2 separate regions of the Homo sapiens genome follow, and region 2 is linked to region 1. The links come from fine-mapping of genetic effects on gene expression. A gene starts in region 1. The other region holds a variant in brackets. All regions are shown on one strand. Distances are from middle to middle. Region 1 holds the start of PROM1 (prominin 1). Region 2 overlaps PROM1 (prominin 1).

The links.
Region 2: its variant is fine-mapped to the expression of PROM1 in left ventricle (GTEx, PIP 0.94).

The regions. Positions count from the first base shown.
Region 1 is chr4:16,081,332-16,086,708 of GRCh38, reverse strand. It overlaps PROM1 (prominin 1), which reads left to right and starts at 2,686. Exons shown (of 28, transcript NM_006017.3): 1 at 2,686-2,731.
Region 2 is chr4:16,027,473-16,032,849 of GRCh38, reverse strand. The region is part of intron 5 of PROM1 (prominin 1); the gene reads left to right. Among named protein-coding and RNA genes, the nearest start is that of PROM1, 54 kb to the left of the region's middle. The variant G/A (reference allele first, on the strand shown) is at 3,025.

The DNA.
Region 1 (5,377 bases):
TCTTTAGCCAACAGGTGATGGGTCCTGCCCAGACTGTTTCTTTCCCTTCAAGGCAGCAGTTTCCCTTCTGGCCCAGGATGTGTCTAGAAATGTTATCCACAAGTTAGGACCTGGGATGGGGGTCTGATGACTCAGACTGATGCCCTGTCCTACTGTGGCTAAACTGATATTCAAGATAACAAAGTCCTCTTTACTCTTCCCCCTCTTCTCTTCAAGCAGAAGGAATGGGTCTCTTCGTGCTGTTTTTAATCACTCCAGCCACTAGCATTGGGACTGATGCAGACACTAAGGATCCAAATGATTATTTTTGTTTTGTTTTTTTAACTGCATTGGGATTAGGCAACAGAAGGGTCTAATGTGGCTGAGAGTTTTTGAGAGAGGAGCATTTTTAGGAGGGTAGCTGCATTCCAAGTAGAGAGCTCTGCTGGGGTAAAAGAGGCATGAGTGCTAGAAAAGGGCATGCAGTGATGAAGAGCCACTAACAGCACTACCTGGGGTTGGGGTAGGGGTGTCACAAGCACTCCCTTAGCTCCCCTGTCTGGTGTCTCAGTAAGTCGCATGCCCTCCAAGTCTACTGGCTCTGAGCTCAGCATTTGGGCTTGCTTAGGAGTTGCTGTCCTTGTGGCCTAGGCTGCCTTTAAGGTTATTTGGGGCCCCAGAGCACTTTACTGAAACTCAAGTTTTCACCACTGGTATGGGCTATTTCCTCTGAGGGAAATTGGCTGAGTTCAGCCTAGTTTTGCTTTCTGCTATGACAGAGCAGTACTGAGTTCAATTCAAAGTCTCCCAATCACTGCACTCTCCCTTTCCCAAGCCACAAGGCTGCTGCTGCTGGGGGATGGAGGACTGGCGGCATTGGCAAATCAAAACTGTCTTTCCTGGCTTCTTCAGTGCCTCTTTCAGTAATATGAAATTAAAACCAGGTATTGTGGTTACTCACCTGATTTTTGGTTCTTATAAAGGTGCTTTTTGTGTGTGTAGATAGCAGTTAAATTGTGTTCCTAGCCGGGGTGGGGGGTGGGTGGTCAAACCTTCTATTTGACCATCTTGCTTCACCCCTTTCTACTGATACTATTGTTGTTGATATTATTAGGAATGAAAATGAGCCCTGTGAGTTATAATTGTCTTCATTTTGCAGACCAGGAAACTGAGGCTCAGAGAAATATTAAGCAGCCAAAGTCACAGCGATTAAAAGAGGCGGGACCAAACTTTGACGGAGATCAGGACCCACTCCTTTGAGAAATCACCTCTTTTGCTAGCTCCAGCCTAAAAGTGCTATCTAGGAGAAGGTTTATGGGACCCCAGCAGATGTTCAACCAGAAACTTCTGACCTGCAGGGGCTGCAGAGGGGAAATCTGCCCTGATTAGAAGAGATTTGTTTTCCACCCATATTAGTTTGATCTCACATTGCTATAAAGAACTACCTGAGACTGGGTTTCAGAGGCTGTACCGTAGGCATGGCCAGAGAGGCTTCAGGAAACTTACAATTATGGTGGAAGAAGGGAAAGCAAGCACATCTTCACATGGCAGAAGGAGAGACAGAGCGAGCAAAGGGGAAGTGCCACACACTTTTAAATCATCAGATATCCTGAGAACTCACTCACTATCATGAGAACAGCAAGGGAGAAATCCGCCCTCATAATCCAATCACCTCCCACTAGGTCCCTCTCCCAGTGAATTATAATTCAATATGAGATTTGGATGGGGACACAGAGCCAAACCATCTAACCTTGCCATGTCCTACTGTACTTTTTGGAAGTTTTCTGAACTAACATTTCTTGTCTAGAAATATACACACTCAAGATCAATCTAACTATTAAAAACAAAAAATGCTTATTTTCCAGTACCTGTTTTATGTTAGATTCTGGGGTAAAAAGAAAAAGGTACTGACTTAATGTTCCTGTCTATCATTCATTTGTAGCTTGTGCATCCATCCTTTCATCTGTCTATCCATATCACAAACATGTATTAAACACCTGCTGTATGCTAGACACCATCCTGAAGGTGCATTTCTTCCCTAAGTCTTTTTTTTGCCTGCCGGAGAGTACAGTATTCTCAATTCAAGATAAGAAGTGGTGAATAAGAGTGAAGTGCAAATTGGTGAGGACACTTAGACACCGAGTGATTACTTCTGACAGGTTTCCACCACTCAGCTAAGTAGCAAGGTGAAGACTCCGAGGTTGAGTTGTAACTCACAGAGCGGGAAGACCAATAGGCAGTGAGAAAAGAAGTTGCAGTGGCTTCACGTTATAGCAGATGCCTGTGTGTACACATGGGAGCGAATATGGCTTTATGCTGTTTTTCAACCGCTTCAGCCACTAGCATTGGTACTGCTGCACACTAAGGATCCAAATGATTGTTTTTTTGTTTTTTGTTTTGTTTTGTTTTGTTTTGTTTTGTTTTAAATTGCATTGGGATTAGGCAACAGAAGGGTCTAATGCGGCCGGGATGAGACAGGAGAGTTTTTAGGAGGGTAGCTGCATTCTAAGTAAGGGACTCTGCGGGGGGAAAAGAGGCGCAAGCGTTGCAAGAAGGGAGTGCAGGGGGTTGAGCAGGCACCTCTACAGGAAATGGATGCTGTCCAGGTGCTGGTGGGCGCCCCAGGGCTACGTGGCGAAGCAGCTCAGCCGGTCCAATCAGAGTGCGTCCAGGGCTCGGGTTTCGCGATCTTTAAGTGACTGAGGCAGATCCCCACGCGGCACCTGGCCATGCTCTCAGCTCTCCCGCCGCGGTGAGTATGTTTAAGGAATCCTTTCCATTACGGCGGCCCCATACCTAGGTCCCCGTCCGGGACAGAGGAAGCCGCAACGGGTCCCCCCGGGCACCCGGGCCTTTCTCCTGCCTCCCGCCACGTCCGAGGGTCCGGCCGCAGCGCCGCCTGAGCCCCTCCGCGGCCGGCAGTGGGAGGCGGGCTCTCCGAAAGCCGTCGCGGTGGTCCCAGAAGCCGGGTCATAAATAATTCACGAGCCAGGGTCTGGCGAGCTAAGGGAAGGGCGGCGGCAGCGGTGACTAGGGCGGGAGCAGGAGCGGGAGCCGGGTGCACGGTGAGTAGCTGGGTCCTCATCCCGGAGCGAGAGAGGCATCTGCTGACCAGGCGCGGGGCTGAGCGCACTCCTTCCACTGTACTGGGGGTGTACAGTGAGGAGTGGACGGGTTCGCTCTGCGCCCCCCTTACCCTAGCCATCTGCGCCGCCTCCCTGGCCCCTCAGCAGGTGGTGCGGGCCCGGACAGCGGCTGGGGGCCAGAGGAACTGCGGGGAGAGCGTGGTGGTGCCGGTGCCCGTCCAACCCAAACTTTTTAGTCTGAGTGGTGGCCCGCGACGCCCCGCTTGGGTCTTCTTTCCATCCACTGGGGATGGGGGCGGGGGTGGGGGTAGCCGGCGGCCGTGGTTCCGGAGCGGGAGTCGGAGGTGAGTGTGCGAACTGGACCGGGGCCCCAGAGACTTCGGACTCGCTCTCGGGGAGAACGGTGACCGAGGTGAGACTCGCCAGGGTCTTGGGAACGAGTCTGCGGTAAAGGAAACTCTAGGGATGGCCCCGGGGACGTGAGGCGCTGAGCTTCCCTGGCTGAGTGCGGAAATGGGCCAACACTGTGCAGCCGACCACAGCGGGAGTAGGGATATGGGGGTACAAAGCGAGGCCATCTCCCCGCGTCCGTGGGAGAAAGCATGCACCCCTGGCTTGAAGCACCTTCCCAGCCTCTCGCTCCACGGCCCTTCTGCTTGCATGCGCGGGGACCCGCGGCTATCGCTAGATGGAGAACTGGGGTGCTCAAGGCGCACCCTGCCAGAACACGCCGACCGGACAACAAAGAGGAGCGTGGACAGACCAGGAGCTTCACGGCTGTAGAAAGTCAGAGGCTCGGGATCAGTTTCCCCGAAAGCCCGTGTCTGGAGGGGCAGGGAGTCGGATCGGAGGGAGGAACTAGCTCCAGAACCCCTTCTCTCTGGCAAGATCGCCCCCGATCGGTGCCCAACAGGGGCCGCGGCGGGGAACTGGCGCCGACGCGCTCAGAGCAGCCAAGTTACTCCGGCAACCCCCTCCCCTGCGCGGCTGCGAATTCCTGGAGTCTCTTGGCTTCCCGCGCCCGCCCCGCCGCTCATTCTTTTGTGTCCCGCAGCTCGCGAGAGGCTTCCGCCCAGAAGGGAGCTAGGCCTGGAGGGGGCTTGGCCTGGAGGTGGTTTGGAGGTAAAGGGCGGGGAAGCCGGCGCCCCAGGCTTCATTCTGCAACAGGTTGCTCCTGGAGCCCGCTAAGGCGACTGACCTTTCTGGAGAAAGGTTTGCTGGAGTTCCTGAGGGCGGCAGCTGTTCTTTGTTAAGAAAGCAAGTGCACGATCGTAGTTCTTGAGTGCCCCCCGAGACTCATGCGACACGAACAACCGCTGCGATATGTTGGGTTGAATCATAAGAAATTGTCGGTTTTTTGGATGGAAGATGTGAATATCGTCAACCTCATATGATTCAACTTGTGTGATGTTACTCATTTTTCTTTTCTCACCGTCCTTTCTGTCCCGGTTATCCTAGGAGCCCCGGTGGAGTTGAGCTCAGAGTATTGATGCTAGCAGAAGCAGACAGACCCCAGATAGCCTTCCAGCTGCGTGCCAGGTGCTTTACCTATTAGATCGCTAGCCTGCGAACCCTATGCGAAATCCTCCTTTGACAGAGGAGCAGAAGAAGGGTTGGAGAATTCAAACAACTGTCATCTTGGCAGAGTTAGTAAGGGGGACCAGAGCCCCCTTACTGTTGCTGTTGTCTGTCTATTCAGCAGTGCCCTTTAGTTTATTCTTGTTTTTTTTTTCATGTGTTCCATAATTTTTTTCTAAACTTCCTTCTGATTTCTAAACTTTTCTAAACTTCTTTCTGATTTCTAAACTTCCTTCTGATTTTTATACGAGACAGTTTCTTTGTGTTTTAGTACAATGAGGTGAACAAATGCATCAGAGGACAAGCTGAAAACTTTAAACCAAGTTGGTACTGTTTAAAATATAAAGGAAATAGGTTTTTCAGGGAGCAAAGAGCTATTTCTGAGATTTGTTAAGGGTCAAGATACTTTGTTAAAACAGTGGAAGCTGAGTCGGGGGTAATTTTTATCAGATAAAGGACTTCTTGGATTCTGTAAGTTGCCTGTTCACTCTGATGGTAGTTTCTTTTGCTCTGCAGAAGCTCTTTAGTTTAATTAGATCCCATTTGTCAATTTTGGCTTTTGTTGCCATTGCTTTTGGTGTTTTAGACATGAAGTCCTTGCCCATGCCTATGTCCTGAATGGTATTGCCTAGGTTTTCTTCTAGGGTTTTTATGGTTTTAGGTCTAACATTTAAGTTTTTAATCCATCTTGAATTAATTTTTGTATAAGGTGTAAGGAAGGGATCCAGTTTCAG
Region 2 (5,377 bases), 54 kb after region 1:
TGCAATTGACTTTCTAATAATAAACTCATTTTTCTTTTATGTGCTGTTAATCCGCTACCCTCCCTTAAGTCTGGAACACACTTCACGATTTAGGGTATTTCTGCTGCAGTGTCTGCTGCTTTCAAAAGTTTTCCAGTTGACTGGCAGATCAGAAATACATTGCTTTTAAGATGACGTTTTTTCGAGTCCAAATTAGATTGCTCATCTGAAGATGAGTGCGCCACAGCAGTGTTCCCTTGTTATGTTGCTTGGTTATTGTTCCACATTTCCTCATTCATTCCGCCACTGTTTCATGCAGCAGCAGAAATCAATGTGCCTATGACATGAAGGCACAGCAAGGGTTGGCCAACAGCATTCTCTTTGTTGTTTCTCCAAACACCACACGTGCTCAGTAGCCGTAAGATTTTTTTCAAGTTTTACTAAGGAAGTGATATTCAGGAATTTTAACAGAAAACAGTAAGTCCTGTGAGTTGGAGTTCTAGCTGCAAACCCAAGAAGGAAAGCCTTTAAGTGTGGCCACCAGCAGGGGTCTGATAAGATGTGTATGGCTTAGGGTGACCACTCATTGGAATGCAGTGTACCCATTGAAGAGGACTGGGCAGCTCTGGATTTGTTGATACCAGTCACCATGACAGATGAAGTGAAAAAGCAGGTTGCAGACCATGTGTAGAACATGGTAACTATGTTAAAAAAAAAAAAGATCAGGAAGGAGACACAAGCACTGGGTCATATTTTTATAGAGCAGATGGGATGTGAAAGGGTTGACAAGAAACTGGCAACAGTGGTTGCCTCTGGAAAGGAAATTGAGGGTTGTGGAGGGGAAGGAAGGAAACTCATTTCTTGCTGTAGCTGGGCTTTTTGTCTCTTTTGATTATGTACCAGGCTCGGGTATTACCTATTGAATTAACTTAACTGAAACTTGAACAGTGACAAAAAAAATCTTCACAACAGACAAAGGCCAATGCATTACCACTTACTCCAGGGCAGTGACTATTTAAGCAAAGACATACTTTTGCTCATAATAGTGGAATAATCGACCTTAACTATATATGTGTGTAAACAAGATCCAAGTGAATGTGTTAGCTGACTTCATGCATTGTTGGTTAGCCTGAGAGTTACTTGTTTTGTCTCCATGACATTGGGGTGTGGGCATCTCTGCCTGTCAATCTCTCTCTCCCTCTCTCTCTCTCTTTTCTTCCCTTTTCTGTCTCTCCTTGCCTCTCTGTATTTTTCTGTCACTGTCTGTCTCTTTCTCTGTGTCTCCAAAAATCATTTGATCCTTGCTATTTTTTTCACATTTGATTTTGAGAGGCAGTTTGGGATCAGGTCAGTAGTGGTCATTCCAAATGTCCCTGTCTCTCTCTGCTTTGTATTTGATATACTCTAAGGAATGCACAGACTCCTAGTTATAGGGGTAGTTACCTCTTTTTCAGCTACCAGAAGAATCTCGGTTACAGCCCTGAAACCTGTCAAACCCACCAGGGATCCCTGGTGTGTTTCCTGTAAGCCTGAAACTTACACGCCACATTTGTCTAGACACTTGCACAGCCATGTTTACCCGCTCCATACACCCTGGACCTCAAAGATGAGACTCGGATGTGAAAGCATCATCTGAAAATATTGCCCTTAGGGCTTCTAGTTAGAATGATTACTTATTTAACAAGTTAATAATTTTCACTTGATGTCAATACATATAGTATAATTTCAGGAAAATTCTTTATTGAATGTAGTTATTTATTTACCTGAATAAGTGTTTACATGTGTAATAATCGGTTTCCAATATATTGGGTTTCTTTGTTTTTTTGAGACAGAATCTCGCTGTGTCACCCAGGTTGGAGTGCAGTGGCGCTATCACAGCTCACTCCAACCTCCGCCTCCCGGGTTCAAGTCATTCTTGTGCCTCAGCCTTCCTAGTAGCTGGGATTACAAGCATGCGCCACCAGGCCCGGCAGATTTTTGTATTTTTAGTAGAGACGGGGTTTCACCATGTTGGCCAGGCTGGTCTCAAACTCCTGGCCTCAAATGATCTGCCCTCCTCGACCTCCCAAAGTGCTAGGATTACAGGTGTGAGCCACCGTGCCTAGCCACTACAATGGGTTTCTTTTTCAAAATTGAACTTTTATTTGCATTACATATAGTTATGTGTTATGCATGTTATAGTTCACTCTCAGCTGATTGAGTTATTTACATTATGTTGAAAATGCCAAAATATATCAACAATAAAGCTACAAAGTAAAAAATAAACTTGGCTTCCATTTATATATAAAATGAAAGCTACCGTTTTGTTAATTCTTGAGAACTCAGACCTATCAAATCAATATATGTTTTTTCTAAGTATATTTTAATTTAGAAAATTCTTTTTAAAAATGCATGCTGTGATTCTATACCCTCCTACACATTCAGTTAAAACAATTTTTTTCCCCACCCAAGTAAAACATTAATGTGAAAATTGTAATTTTAGATTTCAATATAATTAAACCAAAATTGATCAACTGAGATTGTGACAAAACTAAAACTAATTTGATTTCATATAGCACATTGAATTTATGTATAAATTATAAATAGGCTTAAATAAGAGTAGTGTGTGAATTTTTTTTTCTCACTTTAAATTCTGATGAGAATTTAAGCTTCTTTGCCTTGAACTTTTTGATTTACGGTAGCTATTTTAATGGCTTCCTTTTGAAACCCCCACTGGTTTGCAAATACCTTAAACATCATGAGTTGCATAATACCTACATATTGTTTGCAAGTAATCCAAGCTAGGCAGGAGGATTAAAGACCTGGGGAAAGTTAAGATTTCTCTATTATGAGTAGTTAGACAGGAGAAGAAAGAATGTCAACAAAATCAGAAGATTAGATAAAAATAAGAAGGACAAGAATGTCAACAAAATTGGAAGGCAGAAAGGGAAAGAAAGGAAGTGGAGGGAAAGATAGGAGAGTGGACTCTCTCTTGTTTAATGCAGGGCCTCTAGCTGACATTGACTTCAGCGGAGATGGGACACTATTGAGAAATAATCTTTGCAT[G/A]TGATTTTTAAAAAATTCTTTCAGAAACCCAGAGCAGTCCACCTGCCTTTTATTGGACTCAATTTCATTTTGTGGCTCAAAATATTACAATTAAATGCAGTTGGTTTTCAAGTTAGTTTTGAGCATCCTTTTTTATTTTAAAAAATGTAAATCTTTTCTTTAGGGGGTGAAGGGAAGACATAGGTGTTAAGGAGAAAGATGCCCTAGCAGATGTGCAATCTACGTGGGCATGTTCTTTCTCTGAGGGTTCCCAGAGGCAGCTGTGGAATGTGAGAATTCCGTAGACACTGACATATGTTTATGCAGTCTGTTTGACCATCAGCACAAGATCGAATTTCCACCCCTCACTGTAGACTGTTAAGCAGATGTGTCTTACTCCAGAAAAAGCCAACTTTCTTCTCCTTTCTTTCTTTTTGCTTGTCACCGCTGCATTTCTCATAAAGGTTATGGAAGGAAAAAAAAAAACCATGACTTGACTTCCTTTGTATGTTTCTAAGTTTCTGAGTATGATAAGCCAGTCTTGCTAATAATTCCCATGGTGAATTGAATTCCAGTCATTTTCAGGAAGCTGGCTATTTTCAAAGTTCATTTTATACTAGGACGTGATTGCCAATTCCTGAATGGGAGGCTACAAGGTTGTGGAAAAAAGATTGAGCTAGATGTAGCAGTCCTGAAAATCATGAAACTTTCTTCATGTGAATGAGGTCTGGTTACTTACAGTTTAAATGTAATTTTTCTGTTTTTTAATAAGAGAGCTGTTATAGACTGAAAGCATTTGTTTGGCTTTCTTTGGCTAATTTTATTAAATCAGTAGAAATTGGTAAGAGCAATACAGTTACAAGTTTTAAAGTAAAGGTTTAAAAGTAAGGTTTAGCCTTACTCTGTAAAAAGCTTGTAAGTGTATATGTGAGAAAATTGTTTTTTCCATAATAAAATATGGAAGATGTAAGGCCATAAAAATAAAAATTCCTATCTTCTGCTAAAAATTCTAAGAGATTTTGTTGTACTGCTTAAAAGCATATGTTTTAGATTGTTTAAAGGCATTTATGTCAAATGCCAGAGAACTGATATTCACTGAAATATGATTTCCTTTTTGTGTTAGGTAAATGTCTCTTGGTATCATTGTATTCTAATAATTGACTGGAGGTTGTTCAAATAAAAATATTTATTCACATACCTTTTTTTTGCTAAAAAATACACTGAACAACAGGGAGTGTCTAAATCAATACCTCAAAGCATAATTTCTTTGTTCTTTATTTGTGTTTGAATAGAAGGTTTAAATTTGAGATTGCACATGGAGACCATCAGTTGGTCTGCATAGTATTTAAATTTTTTTTGTTAGTTGCTAATATTTAAAAATTGGGATATTTCACATAAGAATCCAGATTCCCAGATTTTTGTGGATAATGGGAAGATACGGTAATATTTATCTGCCATCATGGTGGTGCTTTTGAGACCTGCAGATTTAGCTGCTCCTCCAGCCCATTTTTGATCTCCCAGCTCCCATGACCCCCTGCTACCCAATTTTTCTTTAATGCTTTCTGCCTGCTTACACAGGCATTAGAATTTAAATACAAAATTTACTTTGTGCATTAGTTTGAAAATCAGCTTTGAAAATCACTAACTTCTACTCTATAATTATACTTAGTAGAGATTTTTTTTCTTTTTCTCTTTAATAATGGGGTCTTGCTATATTGCCCATGCTGGACTTGGAACTCCTGGGCTCAAGTGATTATCCCATGTCGGTGTCCCAAGTAGCTAGGATTACAGGCGTGTGCCACCACACCCAGCTTAGTACAGTTTTTTTAAAAAATTATCAATGCTTTAATTTTAATTAGATCTATTATCGATTAGTAGAAATGTAGGTCTAAAATATGTAGCATTGAAATCGAGTGTTGTAGTGAAATGTATTGCAATTCATTTCACTGACTGATGATCTTGTGAGTAAGGACATTTATTCAATAAAGGCACAAAGACAGTTTCTGACTCACACTTAGACATACGGCCAGTCTTCTAAATAGCCCAAATGAAACCAAAGCTTGACCCCTAAACTCACCTTCCTGGAGCACCCGGTGTAGACAAGACTGCATTATACAAAGTTAACAAAGAAGTAGTTTCCACCTCTTTTTAGGAAAATTAAACATAGATAAGAATAAAGACACATTAGAGTCTGAAGTGAGACATATCCCATCAGAATTAAAGGGAGCCTCTGGGAGTTCAAGGCAAGGAGGTTCTTCTCCCTCTTGGGGATGGGTGGAGGGGTCAGTGAGGGTCAAGTGAAAGTGGACTTGGACTGGTGCTTTTCTCCCAAGTTCACTTTGACTTCTTGTATCTGGAATCTGACGAGTGAATA